5 separate regions of the Homo sapiens genome follow, and all the other regions are reported to be linked to region 2. The links are microRNA targets in miRTarBase. Many come from high-throughput screens and were not tested one by one. Region 2 holds a microRNA gene; each other region holds the end of a gene's coding sequence. Distances are between the middles of the regions.

Region 1 (6,368 bases), not on the chromosome of region 2:
ATGAGTGAGAACATGCGGTGTTTGGTTTTCTGTCCTTGTGATAGTTTGCTGAGAATGATGGTTTCCAGCTTCATCTGTGTCCCTACAAAGGACATGAACTCATCCTTTTTTATGGCTGCATAGTATTCCATGGTGTATATGTGCCACATTTTCTTAATCTAGTCTATCATTGATGGTAGAGTGTCTAAAATTTTAATGTCTGCCCCCATCAATTGTTGGCAAGGCTGTGGAGGAATTGGACTCATACACTGCCAGTGGGAATATAAAACTCTACATACAGTTTGAAAAACAACTTGGCCGTTTCTTAAAAAGTTAAACAAATACTTACCATGACCCAGCTATTTCACTATTAGGTATTTACTCAAGAGGAAAGAAAACTTGTCTATACAAGTATCTGTACATGAATGTTCATGGAAGCTTTATTTGTAATAGCCCAAACATGAAAACAAATCAAATATCCATTAATGTGTTTGGATAAATAAAAATTGTGGACTATCCATACAATGGAAGGAAGGAAAGAAGAAGGGGAAGCGGGAAGAGAGGGAGGGAAAGATGGAGGGAGAAAGAGAAGAGGGAAAGATGGAGGGAGAGAGAGAAGAGGCAAAGATAATGAGAAAGCAAGTAAAAAGGAAAGAAAGGGAAAGACACAAAGAAAGAAAATTTTAAGAAATCCTAAAGGTTTCTTATGAATGCCTGTGGTTTGGGGAACACTATCCTTATTTAAGGTGTGTACTGAAAACTGTACTACTTACTATACAAAAATGCTGTAGAAAGAGGAATTGGAATAATCCTCTCTCAATTCCTTACAGCTGAATATCAGAATGCATCTGGTAACTGATAAAAAAAGCCACACACATATTGCCTATACAGGTAGTGTCTATAGAATAATGGTGCCTATACAACGATCCTCAAATTGAAAGGCAGATATTTTTTCATATGTGTCACAACAGATTAATTAATTCAACAACTATTCAGTGACTCCTACCATATTTTAGGCATTATTTTAGATTCTGTTTTTTGTAATGACCAAGATAGCATGTTCCCTGCCCTCAAGAAGCTCACATTCTGTTTGGGAAGGCAGTCACACAACCTGAGAAGCTCAATAAAAGTCTGTATCTGATGAATTTGATGGCATTTGCAATATAGTGTATTGATGTGAAAATGGAACACAGGAGAGGAGAAGAAAGTGAAATTGACTGGAAATGAGTGGTCATAGAAAAAACAGAACACCGGGAGAGTGGGCTCTTTGTGTGTGTGTGAACATGCTCCTTGAACTTGACAATTCCACTGACTTCTTAGCTCATGTCCTCGATTTTGCCAGTATAAGACCAAATGATATAGAATCCTTTTACCTATAAAATAAAATAATGTAATTAGCTGGCTTCTATTAATCTAACAAGGCATTTATTCAACAAATATTTCTTGACGGCCTATTTAGCATCAATAACACTGTGTTTGGGAAGCCTTCAGTGCCATGTCCAGTGCAGGTCCACTGTGAGGCCAAATCTGAGACTGAGGGAGTAACAGAAGTTGCCAGTTACACTATGAAGTAAGATATTGGGAAAACACTGGCTCTTGATGGTTCTGAAAAAAGGGTAAAAGGCCACGCCCTCTCTGAGTGAAGAAAATTTAAGTAGGGAAATATCTTGGGTTTACACACTTCTTACATATTATTTCCAACACATATTTTGTATATTAGTTGTTATTCTTTATTAAGCATGTAGCTTATACTATTACCATTAAGCCAAGAAATACTTCTTTCTGCCTACCAAGGCCTAGGGCCCCTAGGTTCTGGGGACAGACGGAAAATCCAGGCTCTGTCCAAGTCCTCAAAGTTCTCATAGTCTAGTGGGAAGATGGTTATACAGAAATATAATTTCCAAAATTGTGTAATGAGGGCTTTGGCAAGGGTAAGAACAAGAGGCTCTGGGAACACGGAGGAAGGACCCTAAACCACAGCCAGAAGGGTGGGTAGACAGGATTATCCTAGGCTCCTCTCGGAAGTTGTGAGTATAAAGTAGATACTATTATCCCCAATTTGCAGGTGTGGAAACTGAGGATCGGAGAGACTATGAACCTTACTTAAGGTCACACAGCAAGGCAGAGGTGGGGCAAATTTCAAGCCTAGGCTTGTCCAACCCCAGTGTCTCATGCAGTTTGCATTACCCTAAGCTCACTCTTATGGCAATGTCATCTGTTTTTATTACCAGCCACCAGCTACACTTCCTGGCACTCTGCTTGCTAGAAATTTTTTTTTTAAGTACTAAAAACAGTTTTAGGATCAGCCATATAATTTGTGAAGTACAGTGAAAAATGAAAATGAGGGACAACTGGTTCAAAAATCATTAAGCATTTAAGATGGCAACAACACATCATTAAAGCAAGCAGGGGCCTGTGCAACTGCACAGGTCACGTGCCCATAAAACCAGCACTGTTCAGTATAGTAGCTGATTGTGGCAACTTCCAGGGAAAGGCAGCTGAAGGATTTTCGGGTGTTTTCATGTTCCCCACAGAGGAACCCTGGGGTGAAAGCTGTGCTCAGCTGTGAGGAGTGCAGGGCTCTGAAATGGGCCTTTCACCCCCACCTCTTTCCCAGTTCACAGCTGTTTCTGGGGATTGGACACCACTTAGACATGGAGACACAAAGGGAAGCTACACACAGGGCACACAAATTCCCAGGAAAGGCCTGTAATGTTGCTGTTACTTTCTAAACCTGCTTCTGCTTCTAGGTAGATAAGTCTTTCCTACACAATCAATTATAATCTCCAGCTATGAATATTTTCACGAGTGAAATGAGTTAATGTGGTTGGGCTAGAATTGTTCACCTTCCATATGAAGTTTAGGTTGATAGAGTAACTTTACACAATACAAAACCAACACCATTTCTCATAATAAATTGCAGATGAACATGCCCAAACCATTACCTTCACACTTGGCAAAACAGTAGTACTCTGTGCAGGGGCATATCATGCAATTTACTTCACAAAAGAAGTTAATAACCTCGCAAGGGGGCCATGACAGAGTCCACAGTTCAATGTGTCTTTCCTTCATATTTTATGTAACCTCTGTTCCTCAACGTCTTCATCTATAAAATGGGCTCAATATGAACATCTACTTCCTAAGGTTGTTCTGTGAATTAAACGAGTTAGTGTATGTATAAACGTTAAAACAGTACTTAACACATACAAGCATACTATGATTTTTACCTGTTATATCTGCATGCCAGGTATTATATAAAGGCAACTTGCAGTCAATAATGTTAATCCTTGATGTATTCCATTCATTCATTAAAATGAATATTTTAAACAAGTTAAGATACAAATAACGCTGGGAGAAAAACTACTGTTCTCAGAAGCATTCATGTAACGACTGCGAGTATAAATTTGTTAAATTCCTAGAGTTTGTACCTCTGAGGCTCAATCCTTTGTTTTTTTTTACATTTTTGCGCAGTGGCCTCTGGTATTGGTAAAAATGTTGCTCAATAGCTTGTGGAAATGCCTTCATATTTTAAAGTACTAAGTACAATAAAGAATGTCCCTCTCCATTTTTGAAACAGCCAGTTTGATTTTGAAAGTATTGTTGTTTAGGAAAGACCAGTAACCTGTTAAGGGGCTGTCAGAAATATCTGGACACATGATCATAATCCTAATCAGAGTAAGAACCATCTGTACTGGGCACTCACGATGTGCAAGACACTGTTGGAAGCACTTAATATGCACCATCCATTTTAATCCTTACAATAATCTTGGAGACGTACACTCTTACTGTGCCCAATTGACAAATGCAGAAGCTTTGGATCCCAGGTTAACTAACTTGCACTGGGTCACACAGTGATTCAATAGGAACACCAGAATTCAAACCCAGGAATTCTGACTCTGGAGCCAAGCTCTATTAGCTATGAGATTTTGAAAATCACAAAATTGCTCTGAGCCTCAATTTCCACATCTGTGAAATGGGAATAAATGTAGGCCCTCCAATACTGGGAGGTTGTGACTTGCTGCATTGGAACTGTCTACTTTTTGTCTTAGTCTTTGGATATCTAGAATTACTCAAGAAAAAGAAATATAACAAAGTGAGAGCTTTTAAAATATGTGTTCTTTCCTTAGGAAGGACCCTGAGAATACGGCCTTGCAAGCCCTAGAAACAGCCTTGAAGAATGAGGGTACCTGAAACACTTTCTATAAAAGTGGCAGGATGTTGGGACCTGGTGGGCACACAGGTCCCACTTATCCCCCATGGACTCTTAGCTTTGTGGTGTGAATAAAGCATGAGCAGGGCCTGAACAGGACCCTCCAAATTGTGACCAGGGCCCTTTTTGGTCAGGACTATGCTTGTACTGTTCACATACCAGAATAGCAAAGGAGAGGAGAAATATGAGAAAGGAGGGAAAGGGAGTTTCTTTTGCTGGTTTGCTTTATATTTTTTCACTCTGTTCTTTTAATGTAGTCTCTCCTATTATGTTTCTACAACTTAAATTTTCAAAAAACAGCGGAGTTTAATTTAAAAAAATAGTTATATGGTCAATGTGGAACTTGTAGATTATAGAAGACCATATCACCAGTTATTAAAAAAAAGATATACACCTTGTTCACAGCATGGTGTATGCCCATGTAGTTCTCTCCAAATGTCTACACACACACACACACCCTCACATATCTGCTCAAACTCAGTTACAATTATTTTTGTTACAGTAACATTATCGATTAACACGTATTTCCACTGAATGTCTGACCATTTTCCCATCAATTATTAGCCCCAAATCACCCTCCCACATTCTCCCCACCCCCAAAGACCTCAGGAGCCCGTTCCCCACACATAAACATTTTTTTATCCTTTAGAATCTAAGATATTCCCCTCTCAAGCTTCTGACTCCTGCTGTTCCCCATTTCCTGACTCTGGATCTTCCTCCCAGCTTCCCTACTCCCATCTGGGTTATCGTCTCCCTACCTCTCATCCCAAACTTCATCATTCCCTGCTCCTTTCCTGACCCTGGATGTCTCCATCACCCCTCCTTTTCTCCAGCCACCTGGGTTAGACCCTGGCCCCTTTTCTTGCCCAAGTTGCAAATCACCTCTGCTAAGAGGGTATATAGACCTAAGTGGGAACTTCCTGCACAGAACTCCATTTCAGCCAGTGGGAATAAATTATTGCTAGGACAGTATTTTATTTCTTCTCTCGTCCAAAGAGTCAGCTAGTATGTTAACAACTTTCTTTAACCCTCCAAATATGATATAGGATTAACGATTTTTCGAACCGCAATAAAAAAACACACCTCTACATTTTGTTTAAACAAAACAATTTATTTTACTAATTAAAACATTTCATAACAGAAAAGCAACTTGGAAAACAGAAATCTCAGCTCAAGGGCAAAGGCAAACTCTTGAGGAAGAAGGTGGCCCAGAATCAAAGGCCAACAGCAGGTTAAGTGCTAGGTGGTGGAGTCATGGGGAGGAGAGGCTTCTAAACTACTCAGGATGTTGGTTAACGGCTGGAACTTTGGGAGACCTCGCAGCTAACTACAGGGCAGGCAGCCCATTCACAAAGTGGGTAAATGTTGATTCCTTCTGTGGGTCTTAGAGGATGCTTATAGAGGGTCACGGCTCAGGCGGTGTTGCGGGGTGAGCTGTGCTCTCTATTTCTGCCTGCTCTTCTGGAGGGACAGGGCTCAGAGCATAAAACTCAGGCATCAAAGCATACCTAAGGCTTTCAGGGCTAGGAGTGGAGATAGATCTCAGGCCCAAAAACTCAGGGGAAGGGGATGAGGGGCTTAGGCCAGGAGACCTACTCGGGGAGGAGGAGTTGGAAGCATAGGAGGAGGAGGAGCTCTCATCCCACTGCTGAGGGATGGGAAGGAAGAACCTCCCAGGGGGTGAGGGTGAGGAGGCACGCATACGGACTGCATGCCAAACAGGCGGGGAAGCACGGCTTGGGACCTCAGGATCAGGAGAGCCTGATCTGCTCTGAAAGGCAAGCCTTTCTGAGCCAGTCCCACAGGAAGGATTCTCATCAGCTGACCCAGACAGAGAGCGGCGGCTGAGAAGGGCTGATCTTTGCTGGGTGGAACGGCTCCGGAGGCCAGTGCCTGGCGTCGTGCTGGTGCTGCGATGACCGGCGTCTGACCTTGCTGTGCGGACGCGAAGGGCAGGGCCTGGCGCAGAATCGCGGCCTCGGCGGGCAGAGCCTGGCGCAGAATCGCGGCCTCGGGGGGCAGAGACTGGCGCAGAATCGCGGCCTCGGCGGGCAGGGCCTGGCGCAGAATCGCAGCCTCGGCGGGCAGGGCCTGGCACAGATGCACGGCCTCGGCGGGCAGGGCCTGGCGCAGATTCAGGGCTTAGACGAGCAGGGTCTAGATGAGTGGCGCGGTGTGG
Region 2 (6,368 bases):
TGAGCAACAAAGAGAGACCCTGTGAGCCGCGATCGCACCACTGCACGCTAGCCTGGACAATAGAGAGAGACCCTGTCTCATTCATACATACATCCATCCACACTAAAAGTAATTTTAGAAAACCCATAAGAATTTTTAAATCTCCATAATGTATCAGTATAAAGCTAAACAAAAAGTAATGCTTGGAATGTCTAATTCCTTAGGTCCTACTCAAATGGTGATAAACTTGAGTATAAAAGGAGTAGGAAGGGTTCCTTTTTGGACTCAAAAAAATAGTCTTACCTGAGTTTGGTTTAGATGAACTTAGAAATCACTTACCTTCTTAAATACACTGAAATTCAAAAATATCTGATAGTAATTAGTGCTGGTTTCTAAGAATTCAAACTCCTATTATATATCTTACAGTATATAGCTATTACTAATTGAAATATTATTGCACAGCATTTTGTTTGTGAATATTTAACCTGATTAACAGAATCTGGCACTTTTTTAAAAAATTAAGTAATTCAATACATGGCACTTACAGGACATTTCTTCAAGACATCCTACATCTCAGAAGTCTATTAAAGATACCAGATCCAACTAAATTTGTATATCTAAAAGTCACAGTAAAAACCAAAACTAGGACTTAATGTCAAAGAATTTATATCACTTTCCTTTCACATGTATTAGGTAGAAGCAATCTGTCCCTCCTAAGCAATGCTTTTGTTCCTTAGACATTTCTCTTTCTCGTTCATGTGAAATATAGCTATCAATAGGAGATCTCAAAAATAACATAAGCAGAAAACAAACTGAAGCAATATAAGGATATATACTCCTTATATATGAATGAAAATACTAATAACAGAAAAGCACCAATAATTAAAATCTTAAATTATCATTTAATATTTGCTACAAATAATGTAAACATGTAAAAACAAATTCTGATACAAGAAAAACCATAACATTTAGTTTTTTTGGCACATCTATCTGCAAAGGAGGTGAAGATACATGTTAATGTAAGAAAATATTCCTTTCAAATTGACATACTAATAAGCATAACAGAATTTTGAAGTGATAAGGACTCAAAAATAAAGATGTAAGATGAAAACTTTCATGCTTAACTGTATTGAAGTATCAACTTATTCTACCATAATTGCCTTGGAGAAATTCCAAATTATATTAATAATTGTTCAACTTCAAGGTACTTAATGCTACACAGAAATGGCAAAATGCGTATGTTTTTAAATCTGTATAAATTATTATGCATCAATGAAAGTATTTTTTAAAACAAATGATTTAATCTCCAAAAAGCACATCTAAAAATCCCTTCCACTTACTAGAGTTACCTTGCAAACATCTTCCTTCTCAGAAAGTGCTTCTGGCTGACTTTCAGCAGGTTCACACTGCTCAGCCACCTTGTCTAACACAGTCTGTCCTTCATTTATTGGTGTGGAAGAAACCAAGATATCAGGCTGTTCACAGTTAACAGGAGTTGCACTTCGTCCACTTTCTTCCATTTCTGCTTCCTCAGTGGGTATAACTAATGTTTCATTTACTTCTTCAGATTTTCCTTCAGCAGATTCAACTGTTTTAGACTTTGGAGTTGAAGAATTAACTATAATAGGCACTAAAGCATATCCCTTGCCTGACAATTCATCATCTGAATTGATTTCACTTACACTCCGGCTATCTAATGACTGTACACTAAATGAGTCTATTCTTTCAAAAGCATCAGATGAACAGCAACTCTCAGTGAGTTTTTGGAAATCATCTAAACGATTATATTCAGGACAAGCAGATGCAGAGAGAAGCTGAAAAGATGTCTGCATCAAGTGAAGACTTGATTTTGAATCTGTAGTCTCTTGTCTCGAGCTCGCTGAGCTCTCACTTATTACACTTTCATGATCTAAAACTTCAATATCACTGGTGGTAGAAGTACCTGATGAAAAGGTACTAACAGGAGGAGAAGGTGTATTGCTCTGCCTGTCTTCATGTTTTTGTTCCTTAGGTTCCAAAGCTATGTCCTTTGTTTCTGCTGTGAGAGACTGCGTAGACGTATTAGATATACTTTCCATAGTTGTTTTCACATCAATTACACTTTCAGATACTTTCAAACTTACAGTTGGCACCTTCATATCCGATTCTTTATTAACAGTTTCTTCGTGCTTGCCTTCAGTTTTAGGTGATGAAGTACCTGCTGCCAGAGTTTCCCCTGAAACACACAAAGAAGAGTCTTTTACTTGTGATTCAGTTGTTTCAGGAGTTCTTGACTGGCCAATGTGCAAGGATTCATGTAAGCTGCTTTTCACTTCTTCTTCTGGTCGTTGTGATTTTGCTGGAGGTTTTGATACCACTGGACTCTTCTGAATGGTCTGGACATCAGTTGGCGAGAGAAAGGCACTGAAGAAATTTTCAGATTCATCGACCACAGTCCTCCGAACTGGCTTTGTGATTGCTTTAGGAGAGGCTATTGGTGGACTCTGAGGTTCAGTGTTTGATTTCAACCCCCAGGTTGAAGTATCCCATCCTCCACTGACAGGGGAACTTATTCCTTTAACAAAAAAGTAAATATTAAAAAAGAACACATATATGTTACATTAATATTTCAATCATCATTATAAATCAGTATAAATATAAATTTAGAAAAAATACCCTATGAAATACCTGTAATTTGCACCTGCTAAACTCCTTGCTTACTACATCATTAAGTAGTTTCCAAGTTAATACAGGGACTTACGGAAGAAAACTGGTGTGGGTCCACCTGAGAGGAAGGAGGAGCACAGACAAAAGACTGGGCCTGGCCTGGACTACCAGATGCGAGTATGTTATTCCTCCCCACAACAAATTAAGGAAGTAACAGTATATGTTTTATAACCCACAGTAAGTCCAAGATACCTATGATTCATCTCATAATAACACGCTTTACTTATCAATATGAAATAAACTAATATGGAACTAACTGAATAGGTTGGGCCATGTGCAGTCACAGAAAAATGACCCTACCTATTCAGTCAGTTTCATATTAATTTTTACTTGTAATATCAGTAATATAGTTATGAGCTAGACAAAGGGCAACACTCAAAAACTGAACTCAGTGGGTATGGAGGTTCACACCTATAATCCCAACACTAGAAGAGTCATTTGAGTCCAGGAGTTCAAGACAAGCCTGGGCAACATAGTGAGACCCCTGTCCCTACAAAAAAATTTTTTTAATTAGCTGGGCCTGGTGGCCCACATATGTGGTCCCAGCTACTCAGGAGGCTGAGGTGGGAAGATCATCTGAGCCCAGGAGGTGGAAGCTGCAGTGAGCCATGATCAAACCACTGCACTTCAGCCTGGGTGACAGATCGAGAACCTGTCTCGAAAACAAACAAAACAACAAAAGCCTCAAACCAAGATAATGGTGACAAATGTTCTTTCCCGAAGATCATATTAAACTGATGGGAATGGTAAGTTCTAGAGAACAAATTCATTTTCATCCACTTAATCACAGGCTGATTCTCTAAATCCCACTCTCCAAGCCCACTCTAAGAGGAAGTTTTGTTCTCAAATTCTAAATTATGTCAGAAATTACAAGGTCATTATAAATTTCAGAAATGTGTGTTTTTTTAAGAACTATTGCTCTTTGACATAGAGGTGGTTGACACTAGGGTTTTTAAAAAAGCGCTACAAAGAAAATGACTGTTTTCTTGGGGAAAAAGTTAATTATCATATCAGTCATACAAATAGCTACTACTAAAATCCTGATTTTTAAAAATGGCATAATCAGGATCTTAAAAATGGTATATTCGTTAAAGTATTTAAAGCATTTCTTTAAAAATGTTTTCTTTTTCAAATTAAAATGTGGCTGAACAAAATATTCACAAAATATTCACAATTAGAAGTTGGTGGAGAGAGCACAAGTAACTAAAAGCTTCTAAAAACTATCAAGCCTTATAGTAGAATCTATCCTTTAATATGACTTCAGGCCAGGCGCAGTGGCTCACGCTTGTAATCTCAGCACTTTGGGAGGCCGAGGCGGGCGGACCACCTGAGGTCAGGAGTTCAAGACCAGCCTGGCCAACATGGTAAAACCCTGTCTCTACTAAAATTACAAAAATTAGGCAGGTGTGGTGACGCAAACCTGCAATCCCAGCTACTCGGGAGGTTGAGGCACGAGAATCACTTGAGCTCAGGAGACAGAATCTGCAGTGAACAGAGATGGCACCACTGCACTCCAGCCTGGATGACAGAGTGAGACTGTGTCTCAAAAAAAAAAAAAACAAAAAAACAAATATATATATATGTAAATATATGTATGACTTCAAAGGCAGTTAGGATGAAAAGTATGTAGAAAACTTCAGTTTGGAGGCATAGTTCTACACATTCATTTGCACAATATCCAAACCAGAGAAAATCAAAATTAAATATGCAAATGAACAACCAAGATTATGTCTGATTAATTTAAATACATTCAAAAGATGACAGGAATTAATTTTGCCTCTTGGAGAATACTTTATATAATCCCAGGGTTATTTGGTATCCATCTAAATTATACCATTCTGAAGACTATGGGCATTTTCCGAAAACAAATATCCTTATATGTAAAACCTATATTCTATCTTATCTAAAGTTTAGTAATTCTAATTAACTGGGGCACATATGAAAAAACAGAGTTACTCCAGCAAGGTTATATGACATCTTGTAAAAAGTAAAGAGGATCATCACATACACACATGGACCAAAATATCTTAAACTGAGGTACCTCAAATTTAGGTCCTGACTTTTCAATGATGTAAAATTAAGAACAGAAACCAGAAAGGAGTAGTCAAGTACATCTCTTATCCTTTTTCACACAAAGGTTCACATCCCCCAACACCAGCAAATCTTTACCCCACACATCAAATGCTGAACTGTTCCTTAGACTTAAGAGTCAAAAGCAACTGAATGAAGATCCCTGAAAGATTAAGCTCAATGAAACTGCAAAGAGAGACTTGGCTATTCAGAAATAAAATGTGATACCATCCAGAAATCTTGGGTCACACATTTTCCGGCTAATACCTCCGGCACATTCTAATCCTCCTCCGCCGTGTGACCTAGAGCAAGTTACTTGGCCATTCTGGGCCTCATTTTCCTCTTATGTAAAACACGGATATAAACCAAGCTCTCTCTGGGAGTTGTTCTGAAGATGAGAAGGCCATAAAAAAGCACATTACAGGCTCGTGCCTGTAATCCCAGCACTTTAGGAGGCCGAGGTGGGTGGATCGCCTTAAGTCAGGAGTTCCACCAGCCTGGCCAACATAGTGAAACCCCGTCCCTACTAAAAATACAAAAAGTTGCCGGGCGTGGTGGTGGGCGCCTGTAATCCCAGCTACTAGGGAGGCTGGGGAAGGAGAATCGCTAGAACCTGGGAGGCGGAGGTTGCAGTGAGCCGAGATCGCGCCACTGCACTCCAGCCTGGGCGACGGAGTGAGACTCCGTCTCAACAACAACATAAAACCACATTACGCGCTACCAAGCGCGAAATGTTCACTGACTGTTAGCGATTGTTCTTCCCTTCCCTGATGATTTACGTACTTCAGACCTTGGATCCCAACAGTGCCCGAGACGCGAAGCAATTCGAGGTTCAGGTTCGGGAAGGTTGTGCTTGGAAGCTGCGTCGAGGGAGAGCTTGAGGGCAAGACCAACCAACCAAGTCCCCTGTCATCCAAGTCCACAAGCCTCGCACCCAGGACCAAAGAAAGACAAGGGGGAACCTGGATCTGGGTTTTCCCTCAGGAAAACAGCAAAGACCGACTTGGAGGCTGAAGCAGCATTAGGGAACGGGCCGGGGAGAAATTACTTCCTGAAAACTCTCTCAGCAAGGAAGGACCCCTCTCTACACCACTTAACCTGCCTGCATCAAGAGAACAGCAGCCTCCGGGAGCCAGGAACCCCGCTCCTCTCTCTCTTACCCGGCTCTCCATACGGAATGGTCTCGGCCCAGATGCTCGGCTCCTCTTCCTGGATGTCCAGAACCCTGTCAATAGACTTCTGGGCCTGGGACAGGGCCTGCTTAGCGAAGCTGGAGAGCTGGGAGGCGTTGAACCAACTCATCGCCCCTCCTCAGCCGGCAGTGGCGGCGGCAGCACCAAGCGGGAAGGCCTCAGGCCTGGGGAAGGGTGCAGAGGAACGGCTTCGCTCCCCTTTTCCACTCGGCTGGTTCTGTCAGCGTGTGGCCATTACCCCGACAGCCTCCCGCGAGCCCGGGATGTTACCCTCGGCCGTTCCCGCACAGCTGAGACGAAGGGGGCCCATGTGCGCATGCGCTTGCTTCTTCCACGTACACAGCAACCAAATCTACGAGCCCAGAGTTCGGTCGACAGACGGAAGAACAGAAGAACGTTGACGTCACATCCGGGAGCGCA
Region 3 (6,368 bases), not on the chromosome of region 2:
CTCCTACCCCTCTGGATTCTTGTCATCTACTGGGAAATACTGTTTCCTTAGTACTGGTTTGCCCTTAAAAAAGTGTTTTGTACTTAAAACACCAAAACACCCAGTGAAACCACCTTTACTGAGATATAATTTACATGCCATAAAATTCACCCTTTCAGAGTGGTTGTCATTCAGTAGTTTTTGTTATATTCAAATAGTTGTCCAACTACCACTACTAAGTCCTGAACATTTTCATCACCCTAAAAAGGTAATCTGACCTGCTAATGGTTACTCCCCACTTTTCCCTGGTAACCACTAATCTGTGTTCAGTCGCTACAGATTTGCCTATTCTGGACACTTCATGTAAAAGGAATCACGCAATGTGTGGTCTTTTGTGTCTGGCTTTGACATGTACTCTTAAAGAATCTTCACAATAATCTTGAGATAGAAATTTCCACCTAACTTGCGTCTCTGGCTTCAGTTAGTTTTAACTGGTAGCAGCCATTCACTCAAGAAAATGGAAAATCTCCAGAACTGTTAAGAGACCTATTTCCTTACTATGTTGGTACCTGTACAATAGGAATAACAATGCATGAGGGTGGGGGAGCGAGGACGGACTTGGCAAATTCTCTGGCATGACCACCCCAGCACAGTGTATGATGAACAACAAAACCAACTCTCAGCAAACATTACTTAAAAGTATTTTTTTATTTAATTTCTGAGGTAAAATACTTTTTTCTTTCAACTTCCATAACAAAATACAGAGCTATCAGATACCCCTGGAAAAAATATGTATATTATACATATATTTCTATAACATTACATCATATATATATAATATATATGCAAAAATTTGAAGACTTTATAGAAAGCGGAACATCTAAAAGGCACTGCACAATGGAGTTAAGATTACTTACATTTTATGTACATATACACACTTTACTCTGCTCAAGCAGGTAACTAGTGAAGTCACCTTTCACATGTAAATGTCTCATTCACAAATCCCTGCATCACAATTCTATAACTCAAAGAATGCTTAAATATCTCAAAACAAATTAACTGGTAACTTTTTATCCCCCTAAGAAGAAACCAAGAATGGAACAGTTCTTGAAAGATTGAATCAAAGTTGTCTTCTAAACAAAATAAAAATGTACGTTCCATTACTGTTTACAAAACAAAAAGCACAAACATAATTATGGAATAAATAAAAAACAAGGGACAAACAGCCAACTGACTCTACCCACTTGGTGAGAAGTGATATACTTCAACTATTTTTTTAATGCTTCTGAAAGTTTCTTGGCCCACAGAGGACTAGGGTGCAATCATTCCCTGTGTTAGTGAGTTGGGTTTAATGCAGCTTCAAAATTAGGGTAAAGGGACTTGGTGAAATGTTTACATTAAATATTTCACTCCTACCCATTCTTCAGGAAAAAAGGTGAGCTCAGCAAGGCTGGATGCCATTAAGAGATATTTACTGTTTTCTTTTTCTATAGCTAAAAAAGCAAACTTTACACGAAGAAGCTCTTGATTAAGGAAATTTCAATAGATTCATATTTATAAAATTTTAAACATTTGGCACAGCAAAATTTGGAAAAAATGGGGGAGAAAAAATAGGTCTGGTTGTTGTCCCCCTTTTTCCACCTGCTGCTGGACAGTGATGAGATGCTCACAGAAGAAAAAGGCCTGGCTTTGTACCAGGCTGGCGACAGGTGCTACCAGGAGTGGGCTGAGGGGAGAAAAACTATCTCCCACTCTTTTGGCCCAGGCAATGTCAACGACTTCCACATTCCCTGGCCCACTTCCTGAGCAACCCCAGGTTCGGCTCTGTATAAGGACCCTCCCCTCCCAACCCCAACCCCAGAGTGCAGTGCAAATCAACCAACAATTTACTGGTGGAATGGCAATCAAAGGAAACAGTTAAACACCAAACAATTTCTTAAAGCCAAAAAATATTTTTCATGGAGTTGAACATTTTTCGAGTGTGTTTTTTTCAAGTGTAAAAGCAGTGACATTTTGTTCAAACAGAAGCAGCATCTAGGAATTCTGGCACTTGGGTTCTAGGGGGTTACAGGTATGCATCATGGATTCTTCTCCCTCGTATTTAAAAAGGCCTCGTGTTTCTATTCCTGAGTTCATACCAACACCTGCTAGCTCTCCCCTCTAGCGGACAGTGGGTGGCCAGCCAGCCTCCCTGGTTAGATTGGGCAATGCCAAGCAGACATCCCTCATTCACCTGCTGGGCTTGCTTTCTGATTCAGAGGTAAGTCGAAGTGCAGAGAAAGAAACTTACAAAAGCACAACCACCAAAGGCAGCCTGAACGGGGAGCCCTGTGCAGACTGAGTTGCTGGAGACTACCCTCTCAGTCCCATTCCTGGGGAAAGGTAGGTCACTCATGGAATTTGAATCAAACATGGGGGAGGACACCTGCCAAGCAATAGTATGATGGACTCAAGTCATCCCAGGCCATCTACTGTCTCCCTCACCTGCCCTAACCTTTTCTGAGTCCCTCCCTCTCTTGTGCAAGCACTGTAGTTTAAAAAGGAAAAAACACCCCCCACCATTAAAAGACAACCTTCAAATGTTACTCAGTATATAAAGTTTGCTTAGGCTAAGGTGGAGTCAGAAATGTCTCTAATTGTAGACACCATCTCTGTGCCACCCTTCCTCTCATCGGATATGGAGTGATTTCTTCTCTCGCTGCTGCGACGCAGATCTGAGCCACAGTCAGGTACCAATGTACACGACATAGGCACATGTGCAAACACAAAGAAGGTGGGCTGCTGCTTCTTTCTCTCTGCCCCTAGTCCAGGCTCCTTTGCTTCACGTAAGATTAACACTTTCCCATTCCTCTGAAGTTGCTGGAAGGACATTTCCCAGGAAGAAACAATTCCTCACTGCCTATAAACTGTAGTCTCATGTGGGATAGTCAATTGAACATGAGAATCAGAACAATCTGGGCAAATGGGTATGGCAAGAATGGGAACACCACAACAGGACAGATGCCAACTCTCATTCATGCCAGGCCTTTTGGCATCTGGGTGCCTTCTGTGTCTTCTTTCCACCTCTTCCTTCAGTCTCAACATCCACTTGTACCCCCAGCTACCTCCCATGTTTCCAGGTATCATTGGCTCTTAACTCCCACAAGCCTGCCTTTTGGCTACCCATCCCAACAATATCAAGAGGGAATGACTAAGTATCAGCTAGAAACTTAGCCATGTCTCAACATTCCTGGATTATCTGAAAAGCTGTCGATGCCCTTTTACAGGTTTATGGTGACAGACCCGTATCATCTTAAAGTATGTTCATAGTTAAGGCTTGACTTAAGAAAATAAGAGAACCAGACATAATGGAAAGACCTCTTCAATAATGTTGTCATGCCTCTCAGTGAACGTGCTCACAGTCACACTTGGTTTGGCTCCCCAAACCCACAATAGAAAAGGAAAAATGAGTATTTTGTTTTTCATCTGTTTTGTATTTAAAGGCATTGGGTTACTTCCTCCTGCCCTCTTTTCTTCCCTGAACAAGAGTTTACAACTCCTCATGGCTTCTTAATAGGTGAAGTAGGTGAAAAGTCTGAGAAGCTCACAGCAGGGTTTGCCGTCCCAACTATGCAGCTGAGAGGTCGCCAGCTCCTGTGCCTTCCCAGCCCCACTATAATTGGCAGTATGTTTGTTCATGTTTCCTGAAAACATTTTCTTTAAAAAGGAAAAGAAAAAAATGCCAAACAACACCAACCAAAAAAAAAAAAAAAAAAAAAAGAAGGAAGAAGAAAAAGAGCAACATCCAAACATTCCCCAAGCCCCACCCCAGTAAGTCTGAGATTATCTTATTCCTTCCCTGAAATAATTATAAAGAAGCATTTCAGGCAAAATACTTAGTATTAATGGTCTCTTACTGCTCAACCTCCCAACCATGCCCTTTTCCCTTTTATGTGTATCTCTTGGAGTAAAATAAATTCATTAATGGCTTTCCACATACAAATACAATAGAAAAGAAAGAAGTCTGGAACCTGACTATCATGGGACCAAAAAGTATCTTGGCCCTTTGGGAGTTTCCTTGTCAGAAAGTATAAGCCTCAACAGGAAATAGAGGCTCCTTCTCCTTTGAGTTCAATACCCTCCCTGTGTCCTACTCACCAGGAAAATAAGTGTGTTCATATCCCACCTAATTTACAACAGAAGATAACCCCATCCCATCCCCAAAACATAAAAATACAAGTCTATGCCCCTAGAATGATCAAACCAGTTTAACTCCCTCCCCCCCACCCTGAAATCTTGCTACATAAATACATGTATGTATTTGATTATAGTATAAACAGCTCCTAATCCACTTCCAGTTCTAAGCATCAGCAGCTGCTGTTGCCAAGCCCTGGGGTCCTGACCCATTCCAGAGAAACTTGCCACTCTTGCTCAGCTCTCGGGCTTCAGGGTCATCATTCCAGCGCCGCTTCAACCGAAGCTTGGGGGGCATCAGTGCATCTTCTTTCTTCTCAGGTGCACTGGGCTCTTTGCCAGGCCTATCCTCACTGTCTTCAGTCACCTCCAGAGGTTCTCCACTTGGGGTGCTAATGGGCACAGAGGGCCAGATGGGTGGTGCAGCAGGACGGGCAAAGATGGTGCCTTTTTCCTCTTCAATGGTCCTGCTTGGCACAGTGCCCTCTTCTTGAGTGTGCTCCTCCTTCTCTCGTGCCGACTGCCTGAGGCTCTCAGGATCCTTTTCAGAGGCAGGTTCCACCTTGATTCTTGGGGGAATAGAAGCCATGGTGGGCGTGGTGACTGGTGCTGACTCCTCGCTGCTCTCAACCCTCTCCCGGTTCTTCCGCCCAACTGGTGGGGGCTGCAGCTTGATGGAGAACTGAGTTGACTCCTCAGGATGCATTTGGCACTGCAGTGGTGGAACCATGAGCCCTGGGTAACGGGGAAAAGTCCGAGGACTCAGATGGTAGTTGAACACAGAACAAGCTTGAGAATGAAGGTAGTGTTTCATTTCCTCAGGGTTGAAGGAGAAGCAGCTGCTGCTGGTGAAAGGGCTCAGGCCTGGTGATGGGCTATAGGAGAAGATGGTGGGAGTCAGGGAGAGGGCTGGTGAAATGGGGACATTAAGGACACCTCCGCGGCCAGGGATTGGAGAGACAGCGAAGGGACTGTGGGGGTCAGGGTACATCCCTGGCCTAGCAAACAGAGGAAGCATTATGTCAGGCTTGCGTTTCTGATGGCCAATCCCTCCTCCACCAATGGCATTCCTGGAGGACACGGGATCCACACCCCGGCGCCAGTCAGCAGCTGAGCCATCCTCCAGCTCTGAAAGCTCAGTCTTTCTATCAGTACCATTACTGGACTCCTGGCCAGAAGCAGTTAGGGAGCTAGCAGAGAACCGTCCCGGCTGCACATCATTGGTTGGAGAATGGGTGTCCAGAGGTGGGAAATGGAACCGGGAAGAGGCTGTTGGCACTGGTGGTGCACTCTGAGGAACCACACCTGTGATGGTGGAAAATACAAAAGCCTGCATCAGAGGACTGCTCATTCATTATCATCACTTATGCTAACTAAGTGCAAAATATTTAGTAGTAACAGGAAACAATCATTCCAACTGGACTGAATCCCACAGTTCTCCAACTTCCTAGTAACTACTGCTCAGCTGCTTCTACTCAACTTGTCATCCTTCTCTAGGCTCTTCACTGTCTTCACAGTACTCCTTACTGTCAAAAACATTGTAATTGCTTATCCATATTCTACAACCTAAATTCCACATGGCAGGGACTTCCTATTGTTCACAACTGTACACCTCACAGTTCAGGGCTTAACGGTTGTGTACTTCCTGTACACAATAAATATTAAGTGGAATGAATGAATGGGTACAAGAGCCTTCTCCTCTGCAACTCTAAATATTGTGTATATATTACCTGTTTCAATTTTTAGCTCTGCAAATAGTCTTATTTCCATAATTTTGGCCATATATATATATTCGTGTGTGTGTGTGACGAGGTAGAGGTTTACTGAAATATAAACATTCGAGAACATTTAAGATAGAAAATAATAACAACATATAGATAGTTGCTACAAGAGGACATCTGATGTTTACTCACTGCCTAGACTACCCACATGCTATCCCATTTTTCCTTGTTGGAATACAGATATATTTCGAGATGGGATATGGGGAGGGACAGAGCTGCCCTGGCTGACTGTAGGGAGGGGCAGAGCTGCTCTGGCTGACTGTGCGGAGGGGCAGAGCTGCCCTGGCTGACTGTGCGGAGGGGCAGAGCTGCCCTGGCTGACTGTGCGGAGGGACAGAGCTGCCCTGGCTGACTGTAGGGAGGGACAGAGCTGCCCTGGCTGACTGTAGGGAGGGGAAGAGCTGCCCTGGCTGACTGTGGGGAGGGACAGAGCTG
Region 4 (6,294 bases), not on the chromosome of region 2:
AAGGCTGTGGTGGAAATCTCAGAGCCTGCTGGAAGTAGCAAGTCCTGCAGAAAGCAGTTGCGGAAGAGAGGTTTCAGGAGCCAGGGGGAAAAAAGTGCTCATAGTGAAGCTCTGAGTTAGAGAGGAAGCAAGGCAAGGATTATACTCAAATGTCCCCAAACAGCCAGGCATAAGTCAGGGCAACTAGGAAAGATAGGGGTCTGAAGTTTGGGCCAACAGGATCCAAAAAGGCTAGACCCAAAGCATCCAGAACATGGCTTTCAAGTTGTCAACTGCAAGTCAACTGGATGAGGAAAGGTCTGGCTTGATTCAAAGTTGATCGGTGCTTTTTCCTGGAATGGGTCCTCCCCACCCCAGACAGTTCAGTGCACCTGACCAGGACAAGGGGCAATCACTGGACCTTGGTTCTGGCAGGCAGGCAGCCTTGGCAGGTAGATGGTTTAGAAATTGGGAAGGAGGAGAAAAAATGGGGACTAGTGAAAAATCCCACTGGTTAGGAAGAAGGCCTGGAGATGTCTCTAAAGACTGAATAGGGTCATGAGGAGGAAGACCAGGTTTGGGTAGCAAGTCTCCCCACTCTCTCTTAAGAGGTAGGGAAAGACTTTACTGAGGGCCAGATGCCAGGCCAGGGAGCTTGGGATGAAGAATTCCTTGAGTTTCCATCTTTCTGCAAGTTTGGCTGATCCTAAGCCCTCTGGGGTCTGGACAGCAAGCTCCACATGCTCGTCCCTCCCTACAAAGAGTAGAACCTTCTTTGGGGCCCAGGATTTTATACTGTGCAGCAACGATTTCACCCTCCACTTCTCTGTGAGTGCTTCCTATGTTGCATATGTGAAACCCACCCACAGGTTAGAAGTGCAGAGGCCTGGCTGGGTGCAGTGGCTCATGCCTGTAATCCTAGCACTTTGGGAGGCCGAGGCGGGTGGATCACAAGGTCTAGAGATTGAGACCATCCTGGGCAACATGGCGAAACCCCATCTCTACTAAAAATATAAAAATTAGCTGGGCGTGGTGGCGCACACCTGTAGTTCCAGCTACTCTGGAGGCTGAGGCAGGAGAATTGCTTGAACCCGGGAGGCAGAGGTTGCAGTGAGCCGAGATCACACCACTGCACTCCAGCCTGGGTGACAGAGTGAGACGCCATCTCAAAAAAAAAAAAAAAAAAAAAAAAAAAGTGCAGAGGCCTTACTATGGGCTTGTAAGATCCGGTTGACAGTTTTAGAACAATTCCTTATAATTAGAGACTGGGTGGTAGGGAACAGGGGTGGGTGAGCCCAGGGGTATGGTGGGAGATGGACAGATCTATTTTTTTCCTTCAACTAGGCTGAGCAGAGAAGATCCAGATAAATGCAGCCCTTCATTCAAGGCTACACTTTCTGATGGCTATTACATTTGAACTCCAAGAGGTAAACTCTGTTTCACTTCTTCTGCAAAGCCTTTTCAAAGCTTTTCCATAAAACTGTAGCTCAACACTAAGTAAGTTGTCCCTTCACTGAATCCTATAGCACAGTAGTTCTTAAATTTGAGCATCAGCCAAGCGCAGTGGTCCACGCCTATAATCCCAGAACTCTGAGGCCAAGGTGGAGGATTGCTTGAGCCCAGGAGTTTGAAACCAGCCTGGAAAACACAGGGAGACCCCGCCTCTCTACAAAATTAAAAAATATATAAAAATTTTGAGCATGTATTAGAATCACCCAGAGGGCAGAGAGAGTATGGAGCACCCCCACAGTATAGTAGGTCTGGGCTGGAGCCCAAAGATTTGCATTCCTAACAAGTTCACAGGTTATACCAATGCTGCAGGTCTGGAACCATGCTTTGAGAACCACAGCTGTTAACATATATGCTCTACCTTATAATTTCATCTCTTATTTGTATTGTCTAGAAATAGTCCTGAATTATTCTTAGCGTATCAGTCTGTCTTCTCGACCAGATTTCAATTCCTGCAGTGGCAGAGGTTGTATATATTTTCTACCACATCAATTAGCATTATTGGACACATAGTCTACTAAGTACTTATACACTGGGAAGAGCTTCAGAGAACTTGAATTCTTCAAGGAGACAGGGATCAACTATGGTTAATTATAGGATTTCCACATTTTGCAAAAGATCATCTAATTTTTCCTCATCATTCATATTTGCAGAGAAAAGTCTTCATTTCCTTGAGCAATATCCTAATCTCATTAAAGAAACACTCCAGTCTTGATTTAGGAAAAAAAGATTCATTCCTTCATCCTTCCAAATAAGGTACAGTACAACTCAATAACAATGCACATTACTGAAAAACACAATTGCGTCTTATATTGCTCACTACTCTTTAAGTATAATTCAGATATTAAGGAAAATAACTGCTAATCACATTAACACATTACAGAAATCAAAATTAACTTACCACACAAAATAAATTAAAACATTAAATATTAACCTTTTCAGTGCAACATATACAGACATCAGAGTAAGGAGTTCTAAAAAAAAGCATCAGGTTTATTATAATAAAGATAATGAAAAGTTGACCATTTTAGTAAATTATTAAGACTAAGAAGAGGAGTTGCTTTTTCAGTACTCTCTCTCTCTCTGTGTGAACCACTAGATCTTTCAGAAAGCCTGGTAAATCAATGGCTAGAGAGAACAGGTCTTATGTTAGAACATTTAAAAATATACATGTTTGTCTTACTTCTGCAATGTGTTCTTGGTTTTGGGCATTTGAGTCATTCCTCCTTCTGTGACTGGGCAGGTTGGAAGAGATCAAAGCCCAGAACCAACTAGAGGGCAGGGGTCTCCTGAGCAGTGTTAGAGCCTCATTAGTCCATCCCGGCCAAATTGACTGAAAAAGCAACTGGTGACCCATGTGCCCTCGAAAACCTGGCTTGAAGATAACAGGCAGTTTTCTGTACCTGCAAAACACAATCCCTTGAGAAGCTCCAGAAGCACAAATTCTCCTCCCTTACCAGTGTGGGTGGGTGAGTGGCAATCCCATCTTTTTCTCCTTTCTCAGGGAAAAGAACTCTAGGGCCATTCTGCCCATCTCTCCTGCGGGGACACAATGGCCAGCCCATCCCTGGCTTGGTTCCACGTGTGTCCAGCCGGGGCCCTGTCTTCCAGATCAGGGTTGGCTGCTGTCTATCTTTCCATGTAGAAGAAAACATTTCCTGTCAGGATGCTTAAAAAAAGTCACAGCCTGTAGAGCAGTGGGAAAAATCCAGGCTCCATAAGAGTATTGGAGGCCTTTTAAAAAATGTTTGTTATTTTTTTAAATGGGGGCTTTTCATTGTCTCCTGAGCCATTGGAAACAGCGATGCTCCCCACTGCCAGGTGTGTGGCAGCTTACCAGGTCAGGATGTTAAATGATTCTCTAATTGTAGTGAACAATTCATTTTCTAAAGGGCAAGGAAACACAGGGAGCTTGCAGAGATGGATTAGAAGATGCATTTTTAACTTGAAATGGAGTATTTTTGCAGCTAACCAAAGACTACCATTGCCATTAAATGGCAGAGGGATCCAATGCTTATCAGTCATTTGATTTCTAGAAGAAAAATCCCCAAATAAGCCAGGCTGTTCTATCCTGAGGCATGGACAATGGTCCAACCAGGCTTGCATTGATGCAGCCTCTTTTTCAGACCTGCTGGTTTCCAAAGGACTGACTTGGAAGGCACTTCTAGGGAGGCGTATATGTGAGGCCTCTCACTGCATGTGTGTTACAGGCATAAGGATGAGGGCACTGGCAGGTGTGACTTGCTGGACCTAGGAACTAGAACATTCACAGACACTAAATCTCAAGTCTTCGCAGGGAACCTCTGCTTCCGCCATCTGTCCAGCCTCATTCCTACGCCTCTGCAAAGTCTCTTGGATGCTAACTACTGATTGATAGAGGTCTAAAAACCAGTGTCCGTTGATTGGTCTCTAAGCAGGATGCTACAGTCAAGCCTCAACCCACATATCTGGCCCAAGGGATGTAAACTTGAACTTATTTTAGTAATTTAAAAACCTGGAGCTGTGTCAACTACGTTGCTAGGGGGTCAGCTCTGAACAGATCCAAGTGCTTCAGGTGTGGCATTGTTAAATAAGAGTGCCAAAAATGAAGACACGGGTCATAGAATTGTCTGAATTATAAAAAAAAATAAAGAGAAAATTCATAGAAATTGTTCTTCCAGACCAAGGAAGAAGAATTAGGGGAAGACAAAATTCTCTGAAAATTTCAAGCCAATTTAACATATTTTAAATGTACCTTTCACGATGTAATAAGCTAGGTGCACTTAAGAGTTAATACATAGAAATCTTTCACTTTTCAGATATTAGTAGCATTTCCTCACATAAGGAGTTTATATATTATTTCTTCATTACTCTGTTTCCAAATTTTAATGAAAATTCCTAGGGATGAGCTATCCACTATGTATTTGAAGGGACCCACTGTTTCTCACAGGCAGGCCCCATGGGTCAGATGGACCCAGATGCTCAGGGGAACAATTGCTCCTTCTCTTGAGGGGAAAGGAAGACCCACATAGTGGAGGTGACTTGTTAGAGTTTTTGTTAATAAAGCCGGCATCCTGAATGGAAATGAGGAAAAAAAAATTACTGGAATAGTTTTCCTAGTGCTCGAAAATAAATAGCAAAGTTAAACTTCTCCTTTTAAAAATAAAGCAACAAACCAACCAAGCAACAAAATGGAAAATAAATGACTGGTCCCCCTTTCATGGATTTGGCCTGAAATGCCTATGGCTCGTGGCTAATGTTCTATTTCTAAACATACTTACCGAGGGCTCACGAGGAAGTGAACCCATTTAATCACTGAGCAGTACAATATGTATTGGGTTTATCCTGTGTAGACACACACACTCTTCCTCTCTCCCCAACAGAGGGGACAGATCCCTGCTGATGGATTTGCTAAGTTTTCTCCCAGAACGTATTGAGGCATTTACCGGCTTTGTGGCTTCAATGGCACCATTTCTGAACCCCTACCTTTATTCCTACCAGTAACCCAGCCTCTGGTTCCATCTCCGCACCCTGGAAGACTTTTCCCAAGCCTTAGCTGTCTTGAAGAGGCCAGACATTTCTAATCAGTATAGCTTTTCAGTCAGCAACACATACATCATTAATGTAGAAGTCTGAAGGGGTTTTATACTTTTTACATTGACTTAAGAGATTAAAAATAAAACCATTATCCATCTAATAAATAAGACATCATCTCCAAGGGTGGCGATAGCTTGGGATGGTCTTCAATGTCATGTGTCCATGGAAGATGTTGGGCTGGTTGAGGGTCTCGTGGTTAGAGGATACAGCTTCTCTTAAAGCTAGGGTCTTCATGTGATATTAAACAGTTTCCCCTCCTTCACTTTCTTCCCCAGTAGGCAAATGACAGAAAACAATAACTATAGAAATCTCCTGTGTTGGGCAGAATTCTGTTGTGGGGAGGTGGCCCATTAAAAAGAAATATATAGCCTGGAATCCATGGCTGGCAGAAGACAACTGCACACATGTGGACTCAGACACCAACTGCTGCACACACCTCACCTAGGTGAACAGGAGTCCGTCTCTTTGCAGTTCTTTTTTAACAAGTCTTGAAATCGTGGTCCGCTGATTTCTTCTCTAGGTCACACTGAATAACCCCAAGCAGACGGAGTTCTTGACAGAGTTTTGAAGGCCCACAAAAGGCTGCACAGGTGATTACAGGCCAAGTAGGAAGGTCTGTGGCACACCCAGGCATCTCTGGCAGTGCTGTCCTGAAGAAGCCTTTCTTTATTGATCTGCCACAGTCCACCTGGCCAAACTCCTCCTCTGGGCTCTTCAGACCACTGGCAGGAAGGAAAAACAGGTTAAGCACTGTGGGCCACACCCTGGCCACGTTGGGAAAATAAGCTTAGGAAAGAGACTTGGAGATGGCAGAGCCAATGTCACCAAGTTCTCTCGGGCAGTTAGGCCCGAGTCCAAATTCTGCTGGTTCAGTCTCAGGGACCGCAACCTCTGACCTAGTACTTTCAGTGCCAAAGGAAGCTAGAGAGACTGATTGAAAGTGAGTGAGTGAGTGAGTGATAGCAGAAGGAAGGCAGATGGGGGGGAGCGGGGGGATGCCCCCTGTTGTGAGGGTCTCATTTTAATCTGGCCTGCAGTCAGATCCTGTAAGGGGTGGCTTGGTGGGCAGCCCTAGTCCAGGGCTCTGGTGGCAGAAAGGCTTCCCCTGAGGCCATACAAGAATGGACCCATTTATTTTTCAATGGCTGGGCCCTGAGGGTATCCTCTGTGTCTGTCGTGGTGAGGCAGCATGGACCGTCCTCAGTTCCTGAGTTCAGCTTAGCCTGGACA
Region 5 (6,368 bases), 60 Mb from region 2:
CAGACTGACCCAGGTCTGAGCCTCTTGGGAGCGTGCGGATGGCCGGGCTCAGACAGGCCTGGTTATGGGTTTGACTTACAAGGGGCACACGCGCACTCTGGTGCTTCCTGGCATTCAGAAGAGAAGAGGGAGTTCAGACATCAGGCCTTCCTTCTCCCTGGGAAGGATGGCAGGTGCCTGGAGCCAGGCCTGTCTTGAGAGCCAGGGCTCTGGGTCTTCCTCCTCCAGTGCCCTGTTCCAGGCCTTCAGTGCATAAAGCACTCCCCTCCTGGGGTCTCTTCAGGGCTCCCCGGGATGCAAATGGGACAGGGAATAGGATCCCAGGTTTGAGGAAACCAAGGCCCAGAGAGGAGAAGTGACCTGCCCAGAACCACAGGACAGTCAGGGCACACCTAGGTTTCAACGGCAGGCTGCTATGAGCCCCATCATGTCAGTTTGTCTCAGGCTTGGCAAGGTGGTGCAGCACTGCTAGGCCCCCCTCTTCTTCCTCAGGGTGACCAACCAGCAGCCCTGCTGTTTAAGAGTCCCTTTCGGCAGAAAACCCCTTATTTGAGTGACCAGGAATAGACCCCTGATTATATTGGTGGGCAGGCTATGGATTTCATGGGCTTCCCAGTGCCAGAGACCTGATTCAGGCACTTCTCTAAGCTGAGCATCTACTGTGTGCCTGGTAACATCTCTGTGCTGGTCACATCACAGAAGCAAGAGCCCCTCATGGTGTTCTTAAGTCCTAACTCGGAATAACAACAGGTCAGAGCCCCCCAAAGCCCAGGCACAGGCCCTGAGCCCCTGGACACTGGCGTTTGTGTCTGAGAGGGGGTGAGAACACTTCTCTGTAGGAAATGTCTTCAGCCCAGGATCCAGGGGTGGGGGGAACCTCGACCATGGGGTGGGTTGTTCCTGCCACTGTGGGATCAATGTGGCTACAAGACCCGGGCAAGGGATTCCTCATCCAGGCCTGTGTGCTCAGGAGAGTGACGCTTCCCTCATGGGGAGGTCGGGGTGAGGGTGCCCCTGCCAATCACCAAAGAGCCCTCTCCAACACAAACCCAATGGGAGGAACCTGGGGTGTCCCAGAGAAGGGACCCAGCCCAAGCTTCCTCTGCCCCTCAGGCACCAACTGCTTCTTGCTCAGGGGGGTCCCCCAAGGGTTTAGGGACAGAGGGAAGGTCTCACAGTGCTCTGGGTGGCAGACTGGCAGGGGGCAGCTTGTCTACCACCCCGGGCCTGGAGACTAGTTGAGGCACGTGGCCACCTGGGCCGCCTCTGGGCTCAAAGATCAGAGAACCAGTCCTGGGCGCAGTGGCTTGTTATAGAAATCTGTTTAATGGTTTAGGAATGTGTACACTCTGGCTCTGCCAAGTTTCCATAAAGGCAACTTTTCCATGTTTTAAAAAATAGATTTGGTATAAAGATTTATATATTCATAAATAGGTGGCATGAAAAATTACCAAATGCAAATGGAATACTTGCGCTGACTGAAGCCCTGTTCACCCCAAGTCCAGGCCCTGCAGGGGTCCGAGGGTCTCTGCTGGAGGAGGCCCCAACTCCGGCAGCCTCTTAGGGAAGAGAAACTGAATTAAATGTGTATTAGGAACCCCTCCAGCTCCTTAAGCCAGCGTCGCACTGGCCCCACCGAGGCCTCAGCCCACCTCCCTCTGCTTCCCCCCGCCACCTCCACCATTGCCCCCTCCCCTGCACTCTGGCCCCTGACCCCACCTGTTCCCACTCTTTGGCAATTTATCAACAAAGGAAGAGATGACACTGTTCTCCTTCCGCCCCAGAGCCCGGGCTGCCGGGAGAGCTTAGCCTGCCAAGGGGAGGAAACAAGCCGGCTTTGTTTTGTCTCACACACTTCCCCGTCTTCTCTCCCAGCCCAGTTTTAAGGGCCGGAAGGGCAGTGGGGCCCCCTCCTGGTGGGATACAGCAGGGCAGGAGCCCCTGCAACCCCAGGTACAGGTCTTGAGTCCCTGGACACCGGCTTTTGTGCCTGAGAGGGGGTGGGAACGCTTCTCTGTAGGAAATGGCTTCAGTCCAGGATCCAGGGGTAGGGGAACCTCGACCATGGGGTGGGTTGCTCCTGCCAGGGGGTACTAGGGGCAAGGCCCCAGGGTGGAGCCAGTTCTGGGAGCTGTGTCCAGCTAGGCATCTGTGACCCCAAATGGCATGAATAAAAGGGCAGGTTGCTAAGAGCCAGGGGAGGGCATGGGGCAGGGAGACCAGGTTGGCCCAGACAGGACAGAGGTGCTCCAGGGACAGGGTGCTGGAGTGAAGCCAGGTGGAGCGGTGGAGCTGTGGAGCCTTTGAAACATCCTGAGGGCCCAGGCCTGCCACAGGGTGACCTGGGCAGAGGAGAAGCCCAGAGGACAGCAAGGTGCCCAAATGAGGTCAGGGCTTCTGGGGTGGAGGGACGGGGGGCACAGTGGCGGCGGGGGAAGGAACGTTGAGTCCCAGGTGAGCCTGCCTTTCCAGGCCAAGCCCTTGGAGTGAGGGTGCTCCTGCCTGGGGGGCGAGAAGTGGAAGTGGCTCACAGTCCAAGGTGACAAATGAACCCATCACCGGTCAGCTACCATCCCTGTGAAGGAGCCAGGGTGGAAGGCCCTGTCCATGTCCTCCCTCCCTCCCTAAGCCCTGAGGAAGGTAACAGCCCCACCTGTGAGGCCCCAGCCTGGAAGCAGAGTAGGAGAGCCGGGCTTCTTAGAGGTGGGCAGTGGGTGGTGGTGGGCAGTACTGGTAAGTATGCTTGGGTGGCTGGGACTTGCCCTGGAACTGGGGCTGAAATTCAAACGGGGAGGCCCAGGCCTTTGTTCCCAAGACCCTGTGAATGCTCCCTGTTCCCCCAAAAACAGAGGGGCTCTGCAAGGACAGGCTTCATGGGATTTCTCTTTCAGAGTGGGCCTGCAGTGAAAGACCAGCTCAGCCCCTTCTGACCATGTGACCCCAGAAACTTCAGCCCCAGCAGAAAGGTTGTGAGGCTGGAGGAAGGCACTGCCCACGGCACATCCAGTCCCAGCGGGGTCTGGGGGCACCCCTCAGTGCCAGGCACTGTCTGCCCTGCAAGGGGAGCCCAGGCACTGCAGTGGAGGCGCAGGGGCAGAGCCCAGACCCCACTCAGCTCCACTCTCACCCCTGCCACAAGCAAAGCTGCTGAGAAAGGGAGCCAGGCAGCCTCGCCTCTGGCGCCCCCCAATCTGATGCACCCAGACTCCCCTCAATGCAGGTGCTAGCCCCTCAGCTCCTGGCAGCCTTCCTCCCCTGCAGAACCAGGCTCAGCCATTCCACAGGTAGCCTCCCTGCCCAAAAGGAAGCCTGGCAGGTGAGATGCTGGCTCCACCACCAGCATCAAGCCCTGCTTGTCTCAGTCTCAGCAGAGGAAACCCTGTCCAGGCCCCAACCCTGCCTCTTGGGTCACCGTGGCACTGCTGTAAGGCCTGCTCTTGCCCTATGGCCAGGCCTGCCTGGAAAGTGCTTAGTGCAGAGGGCAGGGAGGCATGGGGGAGGCCTCTCACTGGCCCAGGGACTGCACTGAGCCATGCCTGGCCTGCCCCTGGGAGCTAGACCACAAACCGACGCAGCCCTGCTCGTGGGTCCAAGAGCTGCTTACTTCTGGGGGCACCCATGCTGAGGGGGCTGCGAGGCAGAGCTGGGCTGACACAGACGGACTGGGATTGGCTAAGGAAGATCACCTGGCCCCTCCAGCCCTAGCCCTGGCTCTTTTGTCACTGTGATACCTCTGAGCCACATGCCCAGAGGACAATGCTGCTTCCCACATCCCCCTACCCCACTTTTGCCTTCTAACCTTGGTGCCCAGCTCAGGGTGAGGCAGTTAAGGGTCCAGGGAATAAAATGGGCCAGGCCAAGGACCGCCAGGGCCTCTCCTTTTTTGTCTGGGAGACTCGATTCCATAGACTGGGACCCACGCTCGGCTGGCAGGATTCCTGCTTGTGGGGTAAGGCTGGGTGCCTTGCGGTGCCCTCTCATCCCTGAGCCTCAAGGATGCAAGCTTCTACTTGGACCTTAAATGTCCACTTTCTCATCTCATTCCCCCACCTGCCAGACTTCTGAGTGCTGGCACTGAAGGATTAGCTAATTTTGCAACCTGAGTGGCAAAACACTGGGCCCTGAGCCAGCAGACAGTCCCCACCTAGCTGTGGGCCGTGACCCCACCTAGCTGTGGGCCGTGACCCCATGCTGTGCTGATGAAAATGAGAAGCTACACAGAAAGTCAGAAAACTCAGAGGTCCTGATAAGGCAGTGAGCCAGACCCCAGGGAGATGTCTGTGAGTGCTGCGGGGGCAGTGAAGGCAGGAAGCAGGTTCCCCGCCTGGAAGGGGCTGGGGCTTCCCTGGAGCTGCGCTCAGGCACCAAGTCTGTGGGTCTCATGGCTCTAGCTCTGCTGCTCTGTGCAGAGCCCCAGGATGACCGGGAAGAACCCAGGGCACTGGACACATCCCTGGAAAGCAGCAACCTGCTGCCACAGGTAAAGCAAACCCATGAGAGGAAACGGTCAGAGCCAGCAGGCATGGGACAGGGAGGACTGCTGGCCCCTCCTACTGTGGCCCACACCGGCGGGTTCAGGCCAGTCTTGGAATGTGAAGATGGTGGAGGGCCAGCTGCTGGCTGGCAGGGTGGCCCGCCAGGGTATCCTGCTTCCCCTTCCTCAAGGAGAGCCTCCATCCCGCAGCCAGGCCACAGGATGCAGAGCTCCAGAGCTTCACCCGGCTGCTGTAGTTGCCGGTACCCAGGAGGGCTGGCTCTGGAGGGCTGGGCTTGGCAGGCTGGGGAGAGCAAGGAGGTGGGGAACCCCCAGTCTGCCGGCCCGGCCCCTGGTCAGCACCCGCAGCCCCAGCCTTCTCCGATGTCCTTGCTGTTCAGCTGGATGTGGTCGGGGCTCTTCTCGCTGAACAAGGGGCCCCCGTGCCGCATGATGAGCTCCGTGGCCACCCTCAGGAAGGCCTCCTCCACGTTGCTCGAGTCCTTGGCAGACGTCTCAATGGCACACAGGATGTCATAGTGCTCAGCCAGGCTCTGTGCCTCAGCCAAGGAGACCTCCCGAAGCTCGCTGAGGTCTGACTTGTTCCCTGCGGAGGAAAGCCGGGGCAGCATGAGGCCATGGGGGCTGGGCAAGCCCAGTCCCACCTGGGAGGGTCACGCTGACAGCCCCATGCCACTCCCTTCCACCACTATAAATGGACACCCCTGGCATGGTCATCTGTCTTTCTTTAAAAAACCTTTTTTAGGCCGGGTGCAGTGGCTCACGCCTGTAATCCCAACACTTTGGGAAGCTAAGGCAGGAAGACTGCTTGAGCCCAGGAATTCAAGACCAGCCTGGGCAACACAGTGAGACCCCGTCTCAATTTACCCAGATCCTCCTAGATGGTATGAGATGACTTCATTACATTCCAAACAATCTGTTAAATTGCTCCTTGACCCAATTTCTAGAATAATTTTTTAAAAGTCTCTACATGGTTGACTTTTGTAATGTGGTTATAAGGAAGACAAAAAAAAAAAGAGTCTGGGCCAAGCGCAGTGGCTCATGCTTGTAATCCCAGCATTTGGGAAGGCCGAGGTGGGTGGATCACCTGAGGTTGGAAGTTCAAGACCAGCCTGGCCAACATGATGAAACCCCGTCTCTACTTAAAAAAAATACAAAAAATTAGCTAGGCGTGGTGGCGGGGGCCTGTAATCCCAGCTACTCGGGTGCCTGAGGCAGGAGTGGCAAGCGGAGGTTGCAGTGAGCCGAGATTGTGCCACTGTACTCCAGCCTGGGCAACAAGAGCGAAACTCCGTCATAAAAAAAAAAAAAAAAAAAAAGTCTGTAAAGATCTAAAATTTCCTTGGTAACCTTAATTGATGTAGCAACCAGTTTCAAAGTGTGAAACTTATTTGGATCCTGATCTCAACAAACTGGAAAAAATAAAACACATATGAATTTTATGGGCAATTATAAATCTGAATACAGACTGGCTATTTTATATTATTAAGGAAATGTCAGTATTTTTAGATGAGAAAATAATATTGCTGTTTTTAAGTGTTTAAATATTTTGTAGGTTCATGCTGGAATACTGCCAGGTGAAATGGTTTGATGTGAATTTGTCTCAATAATCCGAGGGAGGGGAGGTGACATGGTACAGATGAGAGGAGGTTGGACTTCAGTTGCTAATTGCTGAAGCAGGGTAATGGGTACCTGGGGGCTCATTATTATACTATTCTAAGCCAGATATAGTGGCTCACACCTGTAATTCCAACTACTTGGAGGTTGAGGCAGGAGGATTGCTTGAGGCCAGGAGTTCAAGATCAGCCTGGGCAACATAGCAGGACTGCATCTCTAAAAATATATGTATGTATATAAGTATGCATAAATAAAT

The links. The annotated mature microRNA hsa-miR-3136-3p reads UGGCCCAACCUAUUCAGUUAGU and lies in region 2 at 2,937-2,958, opposite strand. An mRNA with a match to its seed (bases 2 to 7 or 8) in the 3' UTR can be bound and repressed. Matches are read on the target gene's strand: a 7mer-m8 pairs with bases 2 to 8, a 7mer-A1 pairs with bases 2 to 7 and ends in A, and an 8mer does both.
Region 1: miRTarBase lists EZHIP as a target of hsa-miR-3136-3p. Seed matches in the 3' UTR shown: 7mer-A1 at 5,394-5,400.
Region 3: the mRNA of ETV3 is a reported target of hsa-miR-3136-3p. Seed matches in the 3' UTR shown: 7mer-A1 at 1,771-1,777, 7mer-A1 at 1,737-1,743 and 7mer-A1 at 1,277-1,283.
Region 4: miRTarBase lists TGFA as a target of hsa-miR-3136-3p. Seed matches in the 3' UTR shown: 7mer-A1 at 5,408-5,414 and 8mer at 3,937-3,944.
Region 5: the mRNA of RAB43 is a reported target of hsa-miR-3136-3p. Seed matches in the 3' UTR shown: 7mer-A1 at 4,557-4,563, 7mer-A1 at 3,510-3,516 and 7mer-A1 at 2,226-2,232.

The regions. Positions count from the first base shown.
Region 1 is chrX:51,407,755-51,414,122 of GRCh38, reverse strand. It overlaps EZHIP (EZH inhibitory protein), which reads right to left. Exons shown (of 1, transcript NM_203407.3): 1 at 5,280-6,368. The coding sequence ends at 5,595. Among named protein-coding and RNA genes, the nearest start is that of EZHIP, 4.0 kb to the right of the region's middle.
Region 2 is chr3:69,046,030-69,052,397 of GRCh38, forward strand. MIR3136 (microRNA 3136) reads right to left here and starts at 3,006; the gene lies at 2,929-3,006. It overlaps TMF1 (TATA element modulatory factor 1), which reads right to left and starts at 6,304. Exons shown (of 17, transcript NM_007114.3): 1 at 5,916-6,304; 2 at 1,329-2,533. The coding sequence starts at 6,057. RefSeq lists an enhancer at 5,896-6,365.
Region 3 is chr1:157,120,523-157,126,890 of GRCh38, forward strand. ETV3 (ETS variant transcription factor 3) reads right to left here. Exons shown (of 5, transcript NM_001145312.3): 5 at 669-5,457. The coding sequence ends at 4,319. Among named protein-coding and RNA genes, the nearest start is that of ETV3, 15 kb to the right of the region's middle.
Region 4 is chr2:70,445,081-70,451,374 of GRCh38, forward strand. It overlaps TGFA (transforming growth factor alpha), which reads right to left. Exons shown (of 6, transcript NM_003236.4): 6 at 2,204-5,786. The coding sequence ends at 5,779. Among named protein-coding and RNA genes, the nearest start is that of TGFA-IT1, 33 kb to the right of the region's middle.
Region 5 is chr3:129,086,266-129,092,633 of GRCh38, forward strand. RAB43 (RAB43, member RAS oncogene family) reads right to left here. Exons shown (of 3, transcript NM_198490.3): 3 at 1,307-5,081. The coding sequence ends at 4,831. ISY1-RAB43 (ISY1-RAB43 readthrough) reads right to left here. Exons shown (of 13, transcript NM_001204890.2): 13 at 1,307-5,081. Among named protein-coding and RNA genes, the nearest start is that of GP9, 29 kb to the left of the region's middle. RefSeq lists an enhancer at 2,185-2,729.